4 separate regions of the Homo sapiens genome follow, and regions 2, 3 and 4 are each linked to region 1. Evidence: fine-mapped expression QTL. A gene starts in region 1. Each other region holds a variant in brackets. All regions are shown on one strand. Distances are from middle to middle.

Region 1 (5,156 bases):
GGCAGACTAATAGGATAGATATGGATTGGCAGCCACAGTATTCAAAGAGAGAAAAAACAATCCCCTAGTTTGGGCTCTCAGAAACCTTTCAAAGAGCTCCATGATGGGTTATTTCCCCTGCCAAAGAAATAGGACATTTTAGTAGTTCTGAAGACCTTTCTTGGGACCAGAGGATAGAGCTTTTAAAACAAAACAAAAAAAATAAGCATATTAGGAAAAGGGGAAAATATTTGATCATTTTAGTCATAAGGAAAAAGCAAATTGGATTTGAGTCTGCAAAATAGCAGAAGGCAAGAGATTCCTGTATGGTTTTGAGTTGTATTTGAATAGACTGGGCTGGGGTGGTGGTGTTCCACAGGCAAGATTCTACTAATAGTAATTGACAGCTGCGTATTCTGAGTGCCTGGATTTTAGGAAATATGTTAGATTTGGAGAAGAATCTTGGAAAGAGCTAACTGTAAGTATTTATCTCACTTTAGCTAGTAACTCAGTTCTCTAGTACTAAGGTATATTTCTATTTAAAGCAAAAAAATATCAAGGAGGCTAAACTATTTCTAGGGATAACCTAATAGAGATGAACATAATATGGGTTGAAATTCAAAGAAAGATTTATGCTAATCAGAACAATTATAAAAATTTGATTTTGCACTGCAGTCCATTTAATATAGTATTTTCTATTGATTAGTGGTTGCTTTAGCTAGACCATCCTTGGTAAAAGAATTCTGTTCTTTTCAAAAACCTTTAAAGTAGATGCTTATGATATTCAGATGTTTTTCACACACAAATTATTTTTCTATTGGACTCAAAATACAAAGCATATGCATTTCAATAGCAGTGGATTGAAATTGTTTGAGTTCATATTGAATTTATGAATGAAGAAAAGAAAGTTTTACCACTAAATTTGGAATGTTGGAAGTTATTTTAAAAACCAGCTTGAAAGTTTTTTCACAGCCTGAAGAGTAGAGAATAAAACTGTATGAATAATTCATAAAGTCCTAGAAATATTAATCAAGTAGTTTAGACAGTGATATATCTTTTCATTTTGACTAATTGATTTTTTTTTTCTTAAACTTCCTGGCCAACTGTCTAATTTTTTGTCCTGAATGTTTATGTTAACTCCTGTGGGAGAATTCTGGATTTTGATTAAAATTCCCTACCAAATGTTAGTTCGTATTGACTATATGGCGAGCAGGCTGCTGCTGGCAGATGAGGAGGTGTGCTCCGCCTTCTTATCACTTTGTGAATGGATTGTGAAGGGTTTGTTAATTTGCTCTTCACTCCATTGGAGCAGATACTCACAAATATCTGCTATGTCGCAAGACCGTTTTATTTGCATAATGAGAAGAATGGTTTGGGGGATGGTTGTTTGGGAAATAGTATAATAAAGTATATTAAAAATAGAAATACTTGGCCTTGTTTGCCTTTATTTCTGGTATCTTTAGAAACAGTCTTGACTGTGTTGCTTTCCAGCCAAGTCCTTTTTTGGAAGGGTGATTAAAGGGGCTGGGACTCCATCTGCCTGATTGTCTGCCTAGCCCTAACCCTTTCTTGTATTCCCTCTATAAACAGACACTGCCTTAACTCTCATAGGTTCAGGAAGTACCAAAGAGGTCTCTGTCCTAGAGCTGCTTCCCCGCTATAGGCAGAACTGTGATTCTTTCCTCAATCCCAAATATAAACGGCCCTCCCTCTTTTTCTTTCCTTTTTTTTTTTTTTTTTTTTGGTTGTTGTTTAAAGAACATAGTACATGACCCATGCATTTCTTCCTAAAGTAAGAGTGTAAGCATTTCACTTGCATTTCCCATTAAATGAGACATATAAAGGACACTGACTTGATGCTGAGAAGGAAAGGGGCTGATGGTGGCTGAACTGACTGGATACATCGCCTTTTGCCTTAAACAGAATGCACTGTTCAGTGCTTAGCGTTAGATTTATGGAATGGCTCCTCACACAGTGTCGTCCCTGCTTTGTACAATTTGGTGCTTTGTTGCTATCGAAACGGCATTACTTTCTAAGCCATTGTGATTGTGAAGGGGGAGGAGGCTGTGGCAGGCAGGGGTGGTAGTAGTAGTGAATGACACAGATTTGCCAGATGACATGTAGCGGACCTCTGCATCAGCCAAGAGGAATTAAGCTTTGTCACTCCCCACTGGGACTACCTTTCTCCTGGTATGTGCGCAAGGAATTCATATGCTGCTGCTGCTGCAGCCACCAGAGCAGAGAGCCTTGAGTACACTTTGCCACAGAAAGCAGTGAGCAAGAATGATAGCTGTCTCTTTTAAATGCCGTTGTCAAATTCTGAGGCGACTTACTAAAGGTATCGTGCTTTCCTTGTTATTCCCTCAGCGAGTCTGTTGCAGTATCCTATAAACACAGTTTAATGGTTTTTACTTTCAAATATGACTGCCTTTGCAATTTATTGTCAGGCAACAAAGAACTCAGTGAAATATGTATAGATACATATGTACAGGTAGACTCGGCTTTGCTTTCTGTCCTTACATCTCGGTTGTGTTCGTGCTGAAATTATGAAAGCAGCTTGTGTGATTTTTTTTTTAATGACTTCATTCTTTGCTGAAAAGAGAATGTGTTTGGGTCCGGTGCTGAAGTTATTGTGGGAAACCGTCATTTTGCATGCTGATTAACTGGCCAAAAGGAGTCAAGTGTGTGTTACTGTCCTTTCTATGATACATATACTAAATGCAGCTGGCAGATTCAGGACTCGCACAGCTGGTGGATCCACAGAATAATTGTTTGTTCTATGACTTTCCAACATCTTAAGAGCTTTTTCCCTGGACAGCTTTAATTTCTTTATGTGTTAGAATTGCATGTTCAGAAAAGTATGTAATTCCAAATGCTTTGGTCCTATGTAATACTAGAAGTTTATTTGAAAGTAAAAATCATTGCTCGGAATCTTATCATCAAGAATTACCAGCTTCAGATTGTCACTCTTAGAACTCTAAAATAGTAATTAAATTTCTCTGTAATATTTAAGGTATTATTTTATTTGAAACCATTCTGGATGTGCCATCTCGTTTACTTTGTGAGCATTCTATTGCAAAGTTAGTAAATGGATGCCTTAAAAATCCTGCCTTGTGTCCATATAGATATGTGAGCTCTCTTGCCTTATTTCCTTTAGATAGAACCTTCCTTAGAGAAAATTTATTATTTAAAAAAAAACTTCATTCTGAGTAAAAGTATTTAGTTGCAAATGCCTTTCTTTTTCAGCCTGTAATATAGAGTACTGTTGAGTAATTAATGGATATAATTATGTTCTAGAAGCTCTGAACCTATAAATATGTTAATGGATGCTATTTCTGTCAGTTTAGCTTGACATATCAGAATTCTTTGATCACCAGCAGTGCAGCTAAAAATGCAATTAATATTTTATCTGGCAGAAGAATGAGCACAAAGCAAATCATGAGAAATAGATCTTGAGTCAATAACAGGAAAGAGAATAAATACTGTAGACCAACTTACCGAATGCATTTGCAAGTTGTTTGGATAGCAGAGTGAGTCCTTTAAAAGGTACTTTGGGGGAAATGTAGGGAAGATTATACATTTTAAATTAGGCTATTAGCAGGAGGCTGTAAATTCTGTTTTGACTTTATCCTCTACAATTGGTACAGACGTACAATTTCTGTTTATAAATCATGACTAAGAGACTATCCTTTCTGTTACGGTTTTGGCTGAGACTTTTAAAGGCAGGCCCTTATTCTGAAAAGTTCTTTTCTGACCTGATTTTGGCATTTACTTATCTTGATGTTGAGAAGTTGATGGTCTTCTTACATCATAAACATGAAACAATCAGTATTTTCTATTCATCTGTATCAGTTCTTTTATAAGTACTACATACAAGGAAGAGAGTGAACCCAAGCAATTTATAGTTCTTACAAATATTTTTAACTTTCTCAGTTTTCTGAATTTTATGGAAGCATTGATCTCCTGCATTGAAAGGAGATTTAAGTGTTTACTAAGATAGTCGCTAAAAATCTAGATAATTGAGGAAAGTATTGATAACTGCTTTGGAGTTGCTACCTCACACTTTTTTCCAAAATCTTTATGTCTGCTCTATTTGGTATTTAACTTAAGACTGTCAGTTGATGATTAAAATAAAATCTCTTTGCAGAATCAATTTGCCATAATTGGGTTCTTCTTTGTGTTTAACTGGCTGTCCAAATACTTACAAGAATGCACCTGAGTAACACGGTACCTTGCCTTGCCATCTGCTTCAGTCTTGTCCAACAACGTTCAAGTTCCACCCATGCTTCTTGTTCCAAAGTGGATTCATTGAGTTCTAGCACCCCACCCATACTTGTGGTGCTGTTTTCTTAAGCTGTAATGATAAAACCAGGAAACATATGTAATTACAATATTAAAATGACCTTTCTTTTAGGGTCAGGAGTGTATTTGGGGACAGGGGTGGATATACACTTGAAGTTTCTTTCTTGTCCCATTCTCCCTACTCACACAACTCCCACACCCTCACCCTCAACTCCCAAACATACATATTTCTTTATACCCATTGAGGGCTCCACCTAACACTCACTCTTCCAGACATTTAGCACAAGGCATTACACTTAGTAGGCACTTCAAAACTGTTTGTTAAAATGAATTGGATTTGTCTAGTTGAAAGTAGTAGGGCATTTAAATCTTCTGTGAGCTCTTAGGAAATGCTTCAAGAGCTTTATTAGGCCTCTTGTGGCTAAAACCTTACCCAGATCTTAGCAGGGGGAAGTTTGCTTCATGACTCCAAAACTACCTTGCTATTTGTGGTTGATATCACCCACAAGAAAAAGCAATATGGCAATTGCAATTTCTTCTTAATTTTCTTAAGGAGAAAATGATGGAATAAAAGGGAAACAATTTTCTACAAACACCCACATTCTTGATATTTTTACTTGATTCTTACATTCTTCATATATCTAATACATACTTAACAAATATCGATTAAGTACCTACTATGTGCCAGACACTGACATTTTTGCACTTAGAATTCTGGGCTGGGACAATTTATAGGTGTAAAAAGCATTTTTAAAATGAATATATTATTGAACAATAAATATTTTTTCTTTAGGTCAGATGTAATTTTAAAAGATGTATAAAACATGTATTTCTAGACAAGTCCTTGGATCACTCCACATAGACACTGATCCACA
Region 2 (5,156 bases), 400 kb before region 1:
TAACATGTTAGCCTAATTACAACTTTCTTGTTAAGGGTTGTTTCAAAATATACAGACCTATCTGAATATTTCTGGTATTTTAGTATTTTTTTTAATAGAGACAGGGTCTTGCTGTATTACCCAGACCGGTCTTGAACTCCTGGGCTCAAGTGATCTGCTCACCTCAGCCTCCCAAAGTGCTGGGATTACAGGTGTGAGCCACCATGCCCAGACTATTTCTGGTATTTTATATTATGTTCTTAATACTTTTTTTTTTGAAATTAACAGAAAAGTTTCTAAAATGCAGTGGTTCATCTCTCTGACCTCATTATTCTGTCCCCATAATGTGCATCACAATAAAAACGACTGACAAAGGACTTTGAATACAAGTAAATATAGAAGCTCTATGCAAATATGCCTGTGGAATCAAGAGAAAGAAAGAAAAAGCTCTTAGGAATTGTTTATGCTTTCTTTCATCTCAAGTGCCATTTTCTCTGTACATCAGATAACATATTGATTTTAGTGTACTTCAATTCTCAATTTTCCATAAACCATAAAAACCTTAATGACTTCTCCAAAGCTCAAGTGAGAAACAATCAATTAATTTTCCCAGCAGTTCAACTCTGTCAAAATTAAAGTGCTATTTTAATGAATTTTTCAGACATTTAGGCTCTACACAGCAGCAGTTTAATGCCAAAAAGTCTTTCTTTGACCATTGCAAGAGAAGTTTAAATATATACCAATTAAACAGAAAGTTCAAATGTTTTAACCTTTATAATAGACATGAAAATGCAAGTCACTTTACATGGCATATTTCTAGAGTTTAACCTAATGCTGAGTCTACAGCAGCTCTGAACAGAACTGTTGCAGAATTATCCATAATGTAACAGTGAAATGCATCAGCTACTACCCACGTGATGCCATTCCTCCATGTTGTGATTTGAGGAAACACACACACACACATGATTGTCCTACTTCCCTCCATAGGTCTGATACCTAAAAATTCCCACTGCCAATACCACCTCTTTGAAATGAGCCATTTTTCAAAAGGCCATAGTAAAATAGTAAAAATTCCCAGAAGGGAAAAGAGGATAGGAAATTAACATGCTTTCATTTGCACAATAATGACCAATAATACATTAGCACACATTAATGTATTGGATTACTTAACTTGCACTTAGAAAGCAGAGATTACAATTGGGACAGGTGCAGTTTGGAATGGTGGAAAGCAGGTGGCAAGGTCTGTATCTTGAAGTGACAACAAGGAAGTCTCCAGGGAGAAAGAACAAATAGCAGTGATGGAAAAGAAGGTTCTGAGAAGGGTAAGGATTTGCAAAGGCTGGAAGTAGCTTCAAAGTAAAGTTTATTTCAGGCTGCTCTGAATATGTGAAGAAGAATAAAACACTGGAATATTAATTGAGCTGTGAAATGAGTTAAAAATAGAACTAAATTGCAGACAGATAGGAAACTCTAAGTTTCATTTGTAGAATATGGATTGCACTTTCAATAAAAGTTCAGTGATGTTGTTGCTTGATACAATCTGCTTCATCCGGAGCATGAGAGAATCCACAGTGATTCTGAGAGGAGACCTTCATGGCATTTCATTTAGGACCTGTTCAGGCTTTTCTGGTCTATTTTTGGTTTGTTTTTGATTTTTCTGGTTTGTTTATTTTTTTCACTTAGATTATAATGTAAAATTTACTTAATGACTTAGTGAATTTAGGGAAGCTATCTCGAAGCTTCATTATCTTGTTTATAACATTCTCTTTGCACAAGAGTGGATCTGTTACAGTTCCTTTATGAGGAGGAGGCACTTTCACACACAACCATTAAACAGTCTAATTTGCCATTTGGCCTGTTTCCTGTTAGATTTCAAGGTGGCTGTAGACAGTCACATTTCTTGGTGCTCATCTAATCTACTCTTTCTTACAATTTTGAGTTAATTCCTTTGTCTACCTGTTAATCATTTATAGGCATTTCCATAGGATAGGTCTTTTTGCATCTTCCACAGGACTGACTGCAAAGTGCGGTGCTAGAGGACCTTCTGAGTCAAGCCCTGGGACTTCTTCACCTACAGAAAGCAGGTTGGCATTCTTTCTTGGAAGCTGATCTGCCTCACGGTTGCTGTAATAGAAGGAGCGGGCTATTATCATTTGAACTGAGTGCAGTTATTCCTCCCCCACCATCATTTCCAGCCACACCTAAAGCTCAGGCAACTGTGCGGGTGGGCAAACAGAAGGAGCTGATTATCATTCATGACATAAATAAAAACCAAGAGGCAACCCAGTCACCAAGTGCAGGAAAGAAAATAACATCATAAATCTCATAAGTTATTTTCCATTTACATAACCAGTAGCAAATATCACTTGTAGTGCTTAAATAATATAAAT[A/G]TAAACTAGGAGAGACTCTTTTCATGGATCTTAATGAAACATCGTATATAACAAGTATGGAATAAAAAGGCTCATTGAACAGATTTTAAAAAGTCAAAGATAATATAAACAAATGCTCATACATGCATAATACATATGTGTCAGGCACTTTATGTTCATTGCCGAGACTGAAGTTTGCAGGTTGTAAAAATAAATAAGCTTACAAATCCCTAAGGGGTATTAAAAAAATCGTTTGGTACATCAGACAAACTGATCTGAGGTTGATGTTCCTGGGGATTTCAATAGATTGGATGGTCTGGCCCCATAACCAGTGTGGAGATGAATGTTACTTAGTGATAAGTTAAAGGGAAAATAGATTTGTCTTTACAAAATGCTTGTGTTCATACTCTTTACTGAGATGCCCTGCAATTATGATATAATCTATTTGTTTCATTCCAGATGTTCAGTCACTGTTACTTTGAAATAGGCTGGTGAACATTATTGTGTATTTCTTACACAGGGGCAAAGGAAAATTTTAGAAAACCACATCATTTGTAAATGGTTACATTGACAGAAGCAAGAATGAACTCAAACTTCTCTACTTCAATTTCTTAGCCTATTTACTACAGAATGGCTGATAGATATACCAATTCTAGAGTAGTCTAGAAAAACCTTAGTCTACGTTTTTTTCTCTATTGTTTTTAAAAACAATATTTACTAAAATTTTTGTATTGAAATGTAATATTGCTTTTTAAGAAAAATATTAAAGTGTATAAAAAGAGGAGAATAAAACTCACAGATAATGTTAATAGACAGGATACATTTTGATGCATCTCTTCCCTTCTAAGAAAAGTTTGGTTCATACTATATATACATATTGGTTTTCGTTAATCTAGGAGGTCATCTTTATTAACATCCATCAATACTTTATGCACTACTACAAAATAAACAAAAATTATGCTAGTACTATGACACAATGCTTAACGACTAAGAATTATTATTTTATACTTGTTGAAAGAAATCCTTTAGACATAGGTTTTATCAAATATCTTTACTTACATAATAAAAAATAAGTGAAACTAATTGTCTAGGTATTACTAAAACTTTTTCATGTTTAAACTTTAAGTCTTATGATTCACTCTATGATTCAGACTTTTCAATGTTTGTGGTTTTCCACACAATATCTTCTGTTTCAACTAGGGTATTGGCAAGACAGCATTTCTTGAAAGAGTGTTCTGTTATTGTTTCTAGAACTTGGCTTCAAGCTGACCTCACCCCACCTGCAAGTCTTAATACACTTGGACATGCCATGAAATGACAAGAAATATTCAGATTTTAGATATGTAAAAATATTAAAACTATGCCTCTTAGAATCTGTGAAGTATGGTATATGTAACCCTTTTTTGTGCTAAATGTTATAACATGAGAATTTACTACTATCTTTTAAATTATGATGTTTAAAGGCTCTACAATAGTCAATTTAACTTATTTAAGCAAACCTCTATTATTGAACATTTAGAACCTTTCCAACTTTTTGCTGTTATAAATAAAGGTATGATAAACATATTCAAGCATAAACCTTTGGTCACATCTTTGATTATTTCTTTCTTTCTTTTTTTTTTTTTTTTGAGATGGAGTCTCGCTCTGTCACTAGGCTGGAGTGCAGTGGTGTGATCTCGTCTCACTGCAACCTCCACCTCCTGGGTTCAAGCGATTCTCCTGCCTCAGACTCCCAAGTGGCTGGGACTACAGGTGTGCACCACCATGCCCAGCTAATTTTTTGTATTTTTAGTAGGGACAGGGCTTCATCACGTTGGCCAGGATGGTCTCGATCTCCTGATGTCGTGATCCGCCTGGCTCAGCCTAGGTAAAATGATATGTGGTTTGCAGTTTCTATATATTGCCAGATTGCTTCCTAAAATGATTGAATCAATCAATAACCAGTAGAAGATGTATGCACACAATATTTTCTAACCAGTAGTTTTCACTACTCCTCAGCCTATATACAAATTAAATGTTGCTTCTTGACGAGCTTACACTTTCCTTTCATTTATTCCTTTACTTTTATTTATCACCTCCAACATGATAAATAATTCCTTTTCCTGTTTGGTATTTACTCCTTTAATGATCCTATGAATTTCCACCAAGAAAGCTCTTAGTCATTGCTTCCCCAATCTATACTAGATATAACCAGCCACCTTAATTTTCCTCTGAAATCAGTTTTCTTAATCACTTCATTGCTCTAATTTTTTTAGATACTCAAGGGACTAAACCTGAATTTATTATTAGCAGGTTTTTGTCATGAAGGTAGGAACCTTCTATTTAATTTTCCTGATGAAATGCTTATTTATGTCTAGTCTTCTATTCAATTAGTCATTTTTCTCTTGTTCGGGATAATGAAGTCATTGCTCTCCATTCTGACCTAAAAGGTTCCTTTTAGAAATATTGTCAGACCTTGTAATAAGCAAGATTTCTATCTCTAGTATATTTATGGGCCAAGTCTTTCTGATCACAGGAGGTTTGTGTAGGAAATTAAAACTATTTTTAATATTCATCCTTTCAGCAAGCATCCACTGGGCTCACACTATTTATAAGGTGCAATGCTTAATGCCTGTGATAATACCAAGGTATGTAAGGCACATACCTGGCCCTATAATAATATGTCAAATTTATTGGATTCTCTTTATGCATCAGACTTGGGTCTAAATGCTTGCATGCACTAACTCATCTAACCCACCCAACAATGATATGAGATTGGTCCTATTATTAGCCCCATTTTACAGATAAGGAAACAAAGACAGGGAGAAG
Region 3 (5,156 bases), 220 kb before region 1:
TATGGTGGCGTGAATTTGTAATCCTAGCTACTCAGGAGGCTGAGGTGGGGGATCACTTGAGTTCAGGAGTTTGAGAATGTACTGAGCTATGATCGTGCCACTGCATTCCTGCCTGGGTGACAGAGCAGGACCCTGACTCAAAAAAAAAAATTTTTTTTCACATGGGACAGGAACAGTTTCTTTCCAATGATGTCTACAGGAAGTACATTCTGTCCTGACAGCAGCATTTCACTGAATGAGTGTTTCATTGACTAGTGAATGAGAGAGCTCCCTTTAAGCCTTTATTGGACCTGGGTACTCTTACTTGCCTTCCTGCAACTTTCTATGGGACTGCTAATGTCAAAGAAGATAGAGATCAAGTTCAGTCTGGGGTGAATTAAAAGAGTGATCCAAGAAGCAATATGGACATAAATTGAGAAATTAGAGTGAGTTACCCAGGCAGAAATGCAAAGAGAAGCGCTAGGGATACAACACCAGAAAAACAAGACAACCTGATCCCTTTCTGTGCTACATGCCCCTGCTGTAAGAAGATACTGATGCTGTCACATGCATGCTCTGTCATAATGCTCTGTTTCTTCTTGCTACTGCCAGGATCCTTGGTGTTGAGGCCTTACATAAACTTTCCTGTTCAACAACTCAATCCCTGTCAGCACAGGCTGCTATCCCTCTAGGCATCAAAGCACTTGGCATGTTTTTAGAGAGTAATTTCAAGGTAGTTATTGTAATTGTTGCTAATAAACACACTACATTGGGCACAAGCTGGACTAGGAAAGAGTGTCATAAAAAGAAATCTGTAACGATAAGGGATTGTAAATTGCTAACGAATATCCTAACAAAATAAAGCTTTTATTAAAATTAAGAATCTCTTTCTCTTATGAAAGAACTGGGAAGGATTATTTTAGCTTTACTTGGCATAGGCTCTTCATGATAAGAGGAGTGTATATATATGAATTTTGAGGGCAGCATCCAGAGCTTGGAAAAGGTCCAGAGAAGAGCAAATGCAATTATCAATAGGTTAGAAAATTGGCCCTTTAACAAAAGGTTAAAGGAGTTGGATGCATTTAGCCTGGAGTAGAAGCAATTTAATAACTGTTAAAGAGCTGTTATTAAGGAGGACACTGACCAATGTTCTCTCTCCCCATCGAGGACACAAATAAAAGGAATTGTTTAAACTGGAAGAGAAGAGAGGGATTTAGATTAAATATTAGGAAACATTTCTTAGGAGTGAGCATCATTAAAGAAAAAAATGCCATAAGCTATAACCAGTTCCTGAGGAAGGCTAAGGACTCTGTGTCTCGGGATATTAGTGTAGTGGGCACAACACAGGCTTTGAACTCAGACAGAACTGCTTTTGAATCTCAGTTCTTGCCTCGGCTAACATAAATAAAAGGATCTTAAAAATTCCTCCACTTTGTAGATTTTTTGGGGAATGTGGAACATAGTATTTGGACACGCATTTAGGTGATAAAGGTGATAAATAAACATTATTTTCCCCTTTAACTACTGTACTGTTGCTTGAGATTTTACAGTACACAGGTTAGGCAATGTATTCTTGTCAGTACTGATTATTTTTCTTTGTTTTGCGAGGATTTGGCTTTTATTTTTTATTGAAAAATGGATCCTAGCAATTTGTGGCGGATTATTATTACTTGGTTTTACAAAGCCATAACTGGTGTGTATGCATGTGTTTGGATTCACACTTACATCTTGAACAAGGAAACATTAGAAAGGTATTTCAAAATCACAGTAAAAAATACATATTAGAATTCACAAAAAGAAATCACTGGTCTAAACACGGTATGCCTGAGGCATAGCGTTAATTTCCCCTGTTTTGCCATAATTGGATCTGTTACCTGGTGTACTGCCATTTCATCAACTGTTTGTGAAAATCTCTATTTAGAGAAAACCCTTGTCTGTTTAGCTCATCCGCCACCATCATGACTGCCTCCCATGCATTTGTAGGTTGGTCTTTGAAGCATATGTTCTGAAGCGGCTGATTGCCTTCCTCAGCTGTAACCTCTGGGTCTTAATTAAGGGAACATTGTATTTTTCTGACCTAAATGGTATTATAGCATGTGCAGTTGTTAAACTAGTGGAGTTTTCTGTATTTTCAGAGGCTAATAAGGAGGCAGAAACTCTGAAAGTTGCTCTGTCTTGATTCTCACCTCCATGGAAGACTCCAAAACTGTGACCTTAAGCTTTCTCCCTAAGTAGGGGAGTGTGATTCTTAGCTCTTGGGGCAGGGCTTTAGGGCACTTTCAGTGAGCGCTTATAGCTCTTTCATGAAAAGAGCATTGACACATACCGAGTGCCTCCTGGGTGGTGGGTGCCCATCTAAGTGCTTCCCATGCATTGATTCATGCCATCTTCCCGACAACACTGTGAATTTCTAACTGTTTATTATTGTTCACATTTTATAGATAAGAAAATGGAATCACAGCAAATATAAGCAACAT[A/G]CCCAGGAGCACGCAGCTGGCAAACAGCTGAGCTAGCACTTGGACTCAGGCAAACTGGCTCCCGAGCCTGCACGTGTAACCACTGTGTGACACTGCCTCTCAGAGCAGCTTCGTGTTGCCTTCGGAACAGGTCTTCGGAAGAGTGTCTGGAAAATGCCTTGACACATTCTAATTATTTGTTCCTTTATCATGGGAATGTTTTTGAAATCTTGGAACCAGAAAACTGCCAAGCTATCTTCTTAATTCTTGTTTCGTGACACTTAACTTCGAATACAGAATTTATTATGGCTGGTTAACTTAGAACTCTCTTGATTCTAAAAACAGCTTCCTGACTTATTCTTCAGTCTGCCAGAGCTGTTCTTTGCAGCAGTATTTTAACCCCTTCACATCTTTCTTTATGTCACCATGACATTAACTTATACCACAACCACATCTCTGGAAGGGGTAGCCATTCATATGCAAAAGCATATCACAGATGACACCTTAGAAGCCCTTCTTGACTGGATTCACAAAACACTGACAAAAACCCTCTTTTCTACATCCAATGGGGCATTCAGGCCCACCAAAGTTTTTTTTTTTTTTTTCAAATTCCTCAGAGGTAATATTCTCACAGTCACTCTGACTTTGACTTTCAGTTCCCATTGAAGTGTTGATCTCCCTTGCCATCTGCTTCCCTATGCTCCATAGTGACCCATACCTGGCTTCCTTCTCCTCCTAGACTTCCCTGTGGATTGCACACACACAAGGCATTTTTAGGTATAACAGACTTTATTGAATGTTTGGGGCAACAGGGATCAGTTAGCAGTTCCATCACCACAACACAACCTCAAACTGAATTTAGAATTTTCTGTTTCTAAATGTCCTCCAGTCATCCCATCACAGAATTCTCTTAGGTCACCCTTGTAGCAAGCTCCAGTCTCTTGCAGCTTCATCCTGCTCCAGTTCTAGCTATACTTTAAATACAGTTTTTCTCGCATTTTATGCACAGTTGTCTAGCTGGCAACTCCTTATTTGACTTCATGCCTGCCTTTGTCTAAAAATTTGTTAATATCTTGCTAAACAAAATGACCATTGATTCTTTACCAGTATAGCAGAACTGGCAGTGACTTTTTTCTCAATGACAGGAATTTTAACTTTCCCCTCTGATATAAGAAGTGGCCATAGTCATTTTGAGTTTTAAACACATTTATTATTTAGGCTAAACTAGTAACAAAAATGTATTAGTGTTGCTTTTAAAAATATGATAAGAAACACAGTGTACTATGGAGTGTATATAACTTCCTCATCTTCTGGTAAATGAACATTAATATGAAAGTAAACCAGTACCACTGGTTACATTAACTGCAGGAGGTAGTGGTGGGTCTGCGGCCAGCTTTACCTTTGGGGAGAAATTCTTGAATAAGGCAGTGGTTGCTAATCAAATCTCATTTCTGCTTGTTAATGGTGCCCAGTAGAGAACATTACCCATACCTCAGTACAGGGCTCAGGTAGAAACAAGGGGAGAGAATGGATCCAGACCAAGTGAGGCTGTGACAGTTGACTACTATAAGGGTGCATTAGTCTGTTCTCACACTGCTACAAGAGATACCTGAGGCTGGGTAATTTATAAAGAAAAAGAGATTTAGTGGACTGACAGTTTCACGTGGCTGGGAGGCCTCACAATCATGGTGGAAGGCAAAGGAGGAGCAAAGGCATATCTTACATGGCAGCAGGCAAGAGAACGTGTGTAGGGGAACTGCCCTTTATGAAACCATCAGATATTGTGAGACTTATTCACTATCATGAGAACAGCATGGGAAAAACCCACCCCCTTGATTCAATTACCTCCCACCAGGTCCTTCCCATGACATGTGGGGATTATAGGAGCTACAATTCAAGATGAGATTTGGGTGGGGACACAGCCAAACCATATCAAAGGGCATCTGAACAATCCACAGACCTATCCCAAGAATGGGTGTGGTGAAGGCAGTTCATGGTAACAGAGGCTGACAATCTGGCACATGGTACCAGAGGCTGACAATCTGGCACATTGGGGGTTCCAGGTGGAGCACAGAGTGCAAAGTCAGGCATAGCTAATCCACAGCAGAGGCACCTGCTTCTTCACAGCAGCATGGCAACCACTGACCGGAGGATGGCAGCAAGACCCTGAGAGAGGGGCTTAGATGGGTCTTTGGCTAGGGTTCTAGTCCTACAAGGAGTCAAAGTTATTGGTCAGCATGTCCACAAAGATTATGGAAAAAAATGTTTCAACACAGTAACTGGAAAAGTTGCCATTGGAAGGCCTGAGGGACCTCTACTGCTTGTCCCTTGCAGGGTCTGATTGACAGCACAATTTAATTCCTAAGTCTGTGTATGGGAGGCAGTTTGTGTCTTCTGATCTAATTCTTGCCATTTTCATGATTAGCTCAGGAGCCTTGGCAGTCCTGGGCATATGAGGACCTTGGAAGGCAAAGTCAGGGAAATGTGTCAGGGCCAGTGATCATAGAACATCATTCAGCACACACTGGGATACAGAAGACCCTGGCTTTCCTCCTGGGGCATAGGCAGCTAGAAGGAGCATTGTTTCTATTCTTATAATGCAAAAATTAAAAAGTGTATCAAACTATAAGTTATGAATTGTCTGGAACTCATAGAGGACCTTGGTTGTAGGACAACCAACTGACTCAGAATCTAAGAAGAGAATGGGGCCTCCAGAAAGAG
Region 4 (5,156 bases), 290 kb after region 1:
CTGATTATTTGGTTACCCTCTATCTTGATGTTTCTCTCTGGAGCCCTTAGCAGATCATCACCAGCCTATTGGCCACAACTTCAGCATCAGCCCAGAAGAAACTTGTGAACCAGCAAACAGAGCTGTTTTAGGCTTGATATGGGAGCTTCTCAGCTGCTAATGTAAATTTGAGCCCAATGTTGAAGATTTTGTGCCCTAAAATGTTGACTTAAGCATTGCAGTGTGTGGTGGATGGTCTTTAGTTCTGAATGTGTGGAGTAAATACGTTGAGTAGAGCACTCAGAAAGTGGAGGTAATGGCTGCATTCAAAACTCCCAATCTATGGCCAGAAGTGAAGTAAGTGCTGGCGAGAGAGGACACATTGCTTCCCAAATGACTTGATAGACCTTTCATTTTATATTCATCATAATTCTTCACTGCAAACACAAATAATTGAATTGTTAACTCAAGCTTTGGTTTTCCTCCTTATTTTAGGATTTCATATCGTAAACGAACAGCTGCTCACTGCAAAAATGTGGCCATGTTAATGCTTCACTAGGATGTAGTCTGACTGTAAAAGCTGACTATTTTGCTAAAGTAGCCACTGAACCATTTCATTTTATCCTTAGTTGCAGAAATGAAACAGTTCCTTAACCATTCACAGCTCCCAGGCCCAAGGAATAAAACAAGAAGTGCCCAAGAACTTTAAGCATGTCAGAAGCAAATAAAACCTTTGAATTCTGAGACTTCTTATTTGCAACTCTGACACCATCACAATACCCATCACGTTGAAGGCGGCCCATGATATCTTTCTGGCCAGTGCTTTAGGCAGAGCACATTCACAAGTGTCTTCAACTATAATAATGTTGAATAGCCAAAATTAGTTTATGACAGTGTGGCAGGCTGGTCTATGCTGTTGAAACATAGCTTACAACAGCTGTTACTCCATTGAAAGAGGAGAGATGATCATTCAAACCTCCACTTTAATATCCGTAATTCACTGATAGGACTCACATTAGAAGACAGTCAGTGGAATGATATCTAAGAGATTCTAGATTTCTTGCTGTTGTCTTCAAGTTTACTTATCTAAGTTCCACTTAACCATATATATGTTATTTGTTCCAACCCTTCGCAAAATCCACTTTTCTATATCAAAAGTTAGCATGCATGTAAAGCTTAAAACGGAAACAGCGTGACCCAATGTCTGTCTTCTTTGTTACTGAGTGACTCTCTCCTCTCATATTATAATGCCTCCTCAGCCATATGTTTATTTCACAGATATTTACTGCATACTTACTAAATGCTAGGTAAGCACTGTCCTAGACATGGACACAGTTGAAAGGTCCTGCAGCCCCAGCTGGGCGGATCTCACACATTTAAAACATAAGTCATTAGGCAGTGTTCCTCTCCCCTGGCACTGACAATGATTATATCCCTGTATTTGAATGTAAGATCCTACTAAGGAAATGCTACTTCCCAAAATAATTATTTTCTGTGACATGATACTTTGACGAGGATGTTTTGAATTCTTTTATGTATGAATCTATGCATCTTACTCTTTTGCTTTTTCCAAAGAAATCAATTATGATTCCTTGGCATTTATTACAGATGAGCAAGAAAGTTCCGGAGCAATTATTTACACCGTGGAGCTTAAACGCTACGGGGGGCCCCTTGGCATCACAATTTCAGGAACTGAAGAGCCGTTTGATCCTATAATCATTTCAAGCCTCACTAAAGGGGGATTAGCTGAAAGGTAAAATTTGAAGTAACTGTTATAATTACCTGTGTCTGAGACGGGCTTCCTTCCTCACAACCACATAAAAACATGCTCCTCTCTCTGTGGTTATCTGTTGGCTTTTAAAAATCTGCACAAAGGATTGATCTTAGAGCCTGAGAACTCTCAGGCAGAGTTCCGACTTGACTCTGAGGGGCATCTTACAGGCAGTAAAAGACGTCTTGGGCTTAGCATTGATACTACTCTCTGAAATGTATAAGCTGACCACAATTGACTGAAGGCGGATTTGTATTGTGTCCATTTTGAGAGGAGGAAACTAAAGTTCAGGGAGGTTGAACAGCTTGTCCAATTTCATTCAGCAAACACTTGCTGAGCCTCTGTTACCTGACAGGTGCCACACTTAGCTGCTGTGTTTTCAGAAAAGGATGATACAGACATCATCTTCAAGGATTATGGGAAACAAAGTGTATAACCCATTTTAATAATGTCTTAAAAGCTGGAATGTCCATTTTTTCCTTTGGCAATGATGTACACACACACCCACTCCCCACCCTCCGCTAAACTGCATTTCTTTCTGAGATGTGTTGTTGGACATATAACAAACCCTATAAGCAAATCTGCCCTCCAGTAACCTAGCTCAGGAATACACAAATGCATTGTTCCTGCTAACAGTTGAAAACAGTGGCTAGCAAAATAGAGACACAGCATTGCAAAATGTTGGAGCTGCAGTGTACCTTAGAAATTAGCTCATACAGGCCAGGTGCGGTGGCTCACACCTGTAATCCCAGAACTTTGGGAGGCCGAGGTAGATGGATCACGAGGTCAGTTCAAGACCAGCCTGGCCAATGGGGAAACCTCATCTCTACTAAAAATAGAAAAATTAGCTGGGGATGGTGGTGCTTGCCTGTAATCCCAGCTA[C/T]TTGGGAGGCTGAGGCTGGAGAATTGCTTGAACCCGGGATGCGGAGGTTGCAGTGAGCCAAGATCGTGCCACTGGACTCCAGCCTGGGTGACACAGTGAGGCTCTGTCTCAAAAAAAAAAAAAAAAAAAAAAAAAAATCTGTAGAAAGAAAGGATGCTCCATGCTATCCACTACATTTGTCATTCAACATTGTTCATTTTCTTGGGATTTTTAGGGTGCTTAACCAATGACTCAGCTTTCTTGGAATTAAAAAACACAGTTCATTTTAATAACTAATTAAAACAATTTTTAAAATTTTATTGGAAACTAAAAAGTAATCCACAACAGATGCAGTTATCTTATAACATTGCCCAGGAGAAAGCAAGAAGGGACTTCTGGAGATCCTTACCAAGTCTTTATTATGATGAATGTATAAGGTATGTCAGGGAATTTATATTCAGTACCATACAGGGATTATTTCTACCTCTCCTATTACTATTTGGCTTTTCAGAACTGGCGCAATCCACATAGGAGACCGAATCCTAGCCATCAATAGCAGCAGCTTGAAAGGGAAGCCTCTGAGTGAAGCCATCCATTTGTTACAGATGGCAGGAGAGACTGTCACCTTGAAAATTAAGAAACAGACAGATGGTGAGTAGTGAATTGAAAGCCACAATTAAGGATTTCCAGTGCATTTTCTTCCTTGAAAGAATGTGCTAGTGTCTGTGTGTAATTCTAGGGAAACAAATCTCTAGCCACGGAGTATCTTGGTATATTTTTATTTAAATTTACTCTGATACTTAAACTCCTTTCCTGTCTATAAAGCCCAGTCAGCATCGAGCCCCAAGAAGTTCCCTATTTCTAGCCATTTGAGTGACCTGGGGGATGTGGAGGAGGACTCCTCACCAGCACAGAAGCCAGGCAAGCTCTCCGACATGTACCCCTCCACGGTGCCCAGTGTGGACAGTGCTGTGGATTCATGGGATGGGTCTGCAATAGACACCAGCTATGGAACTCAAGGTATGTCTTTACTTTGTCCCCCAGAGGACTTGTCATTGTTGAAGCCCATGCTTCTCCAAGATTCATCCTCTGCTCCATGAGGAGAATATCTTTCTTTAACTTGTGTCTGCTTTGGTGCAGCCATAATCATATTGAACACATTGAATACTTACACTCTGCTGGCCATGCATTTTCTTCTAGTGCTTATAAGGCATGAACCTTTACCAAACACTAACAGGCCTCCATTAGGTCTACTGATGGCCAAGTATCCCATCCAGGGCTTGTCCTTCAAGCTTAGATTAATGTGAGGCAAACCATACAATAAAGTGGCTCGTTCAATACAGGCCCCATTGCCTTATTTTTCAGCAAGCTTTCCACAAAGATGGATTGGGGAGTTTGGAAGAGGTGCATAAGAGATTAGCCAATGATTTGTGACTCTATTTATTCCTGCACACTCCTGACTTTTTTTTTTCTTTTAGAGACTGGGTCTCACTCTGTCACCCCAGCTAGAATACCCTGGCACCATCATAGTTCATTATAGTCTCAAACTCCTGGACTCAAGGGATCTTGCTGCCTCAGTCTCCTCAGTAGCTGAGACTATGTGCACACACCACCACACCCAGCTGATTTTTAAATTTTTGTAGATACGGGGTCTTGTCATGTTCTCCAGGCTGGTATCAAACTTCTGGCCTCCAGCAATCCTCCCATCTTGGCCTCCCAAAGTGCTAGGATAATAGGCATGAGCCACCATGCCCTTTCCCTGAATGTTTATAATTAGAGCACTATAATCACAATATAGGAAAGTATAGAGTAGATTTTTCTTCATAGGTGTCATCGTCATGTGAAGAAATACTATCTACATTAAAAAGCCTCACTCATGGAATATAAACACATAAAAGGTGTCAGACTGAATACAGAGCATAAACTAATAGCTTCTTTTAAAAAATATTTTCTTCCCAGTGATCCGTAGCATCAACAAGAGAAGTATGTCAAAACTTCTTGGTATTTCTCCTCATCTGAGCCTTACCTTCTCTCATGTTCTATGTAAATTCCAGCCTCTGAATCCCTTGTTTGCTCTGGGTTTCAGTCAGTCAAATAATAAAACACATAAACAGTTTAGAGAACACATTGGTGTGAGGGCTGCTTTGTCACTGAGTTAACTGTACTTTTTAGGAGTGTCTGTATCCAGTTTGCTCTCTCCTGGTTTTCCTAGTTTCCTTCTCTCAGCCTGCCTATGTTGTGTCACTCTCTGTTAAGTCCTCTGGTGAACAAAAAACAAAAATGGAAGGGAGAAAAAACTGGAAAAAAAAATGAAAGGAGATGATATTTCAAAGTTGTCAAGTTGTTACTTTCATTAGAGATGATACTGGAGTTAGGTGGGGAAAATACTTTGAACACCTAAGTAGAATTGGGGCTTTATCTGGCAATTAATTTTTCCAAGTCATAATACCTTGTGACAAGTTCACCTATGCCACCAAATAACAGACCTTCTGATTGCCTGAGAATTGATGGGCCACCAGAAGACACTGAGTAAAGGACAGAAGT

Evidence for each region. PIP is the estimated chance that this variant, and not a neighbour inherited with it, causes the effect.
Region 2: its variant is the best candidate, but not a certain one, in a credible set for the expression of GRIP1 in esophagus mucosa (GTEx, PIP 0.58).
Region 3: its variant is the best candidate, but not a certain one, in a credible set for the expression of GRIP1 in sun-exposed skin (GTEx, PIP 0.65).
Region 4: its variant is the best candidate, but not a certain one, in a credible set for the expression of GRIP1 in whole blood (TOPMed, PIP 0.72).

What each region holds. Positions count from the first base shown.
Region 1 is chr12:66,676,011-66,681,166 of GRCh38, reverse strand. GRIP1 (glutamate receptor interacting protein 1) reads left to right here and starts at 2,091. Exons shown (of 25, transcript NM_001366722.1): 1 at 2,091-2,317. The coding sequence starts at 2,263.
Region 2 is chr12:67,076,188-67,081,343 of GRCh38, reverse strand. LOC102724421 (a long non-coding RNA gene) reads left to right here. Exons shown (of 4, transcript NR_120490.1): 4 at 3,600-3,718. Among named protein-coding and RNA genes, the nearest start is that of CAND1, 190 kb to the left of the region's middle. The variant A/G (reference allele first, on the strand shown) is at 2,370.
Region 3 is chr12:66,894,365-66,899,520 of GRCh38, reverse strand. It overlaps a transcript of GRIP1 not described here. Among named protein-coding and RNA genes, the nearest start is that of GRIP1, 220 kb to the right of the region's middle. The variant A/G (reference allele first, on the strand shown) is at 2,457.
Region 4 is chr12:66,390,784-66,395,939 of GRCh38, reverse strand. GRIP1 (glutamate receptor interacting protein 1) reads left to right here. Exons shown (of 25, transcript NM_001366722.1): 17 at 1,588-1,732; 18 at 3,124-3,263; 19 at 3,438-3,632. Among named protein-coding and RNA genes, the nearest start is that of HELB, 91 kb to the right of the region's middle. The variant C/T (reference allele first, on the strand shown) is at 2,634.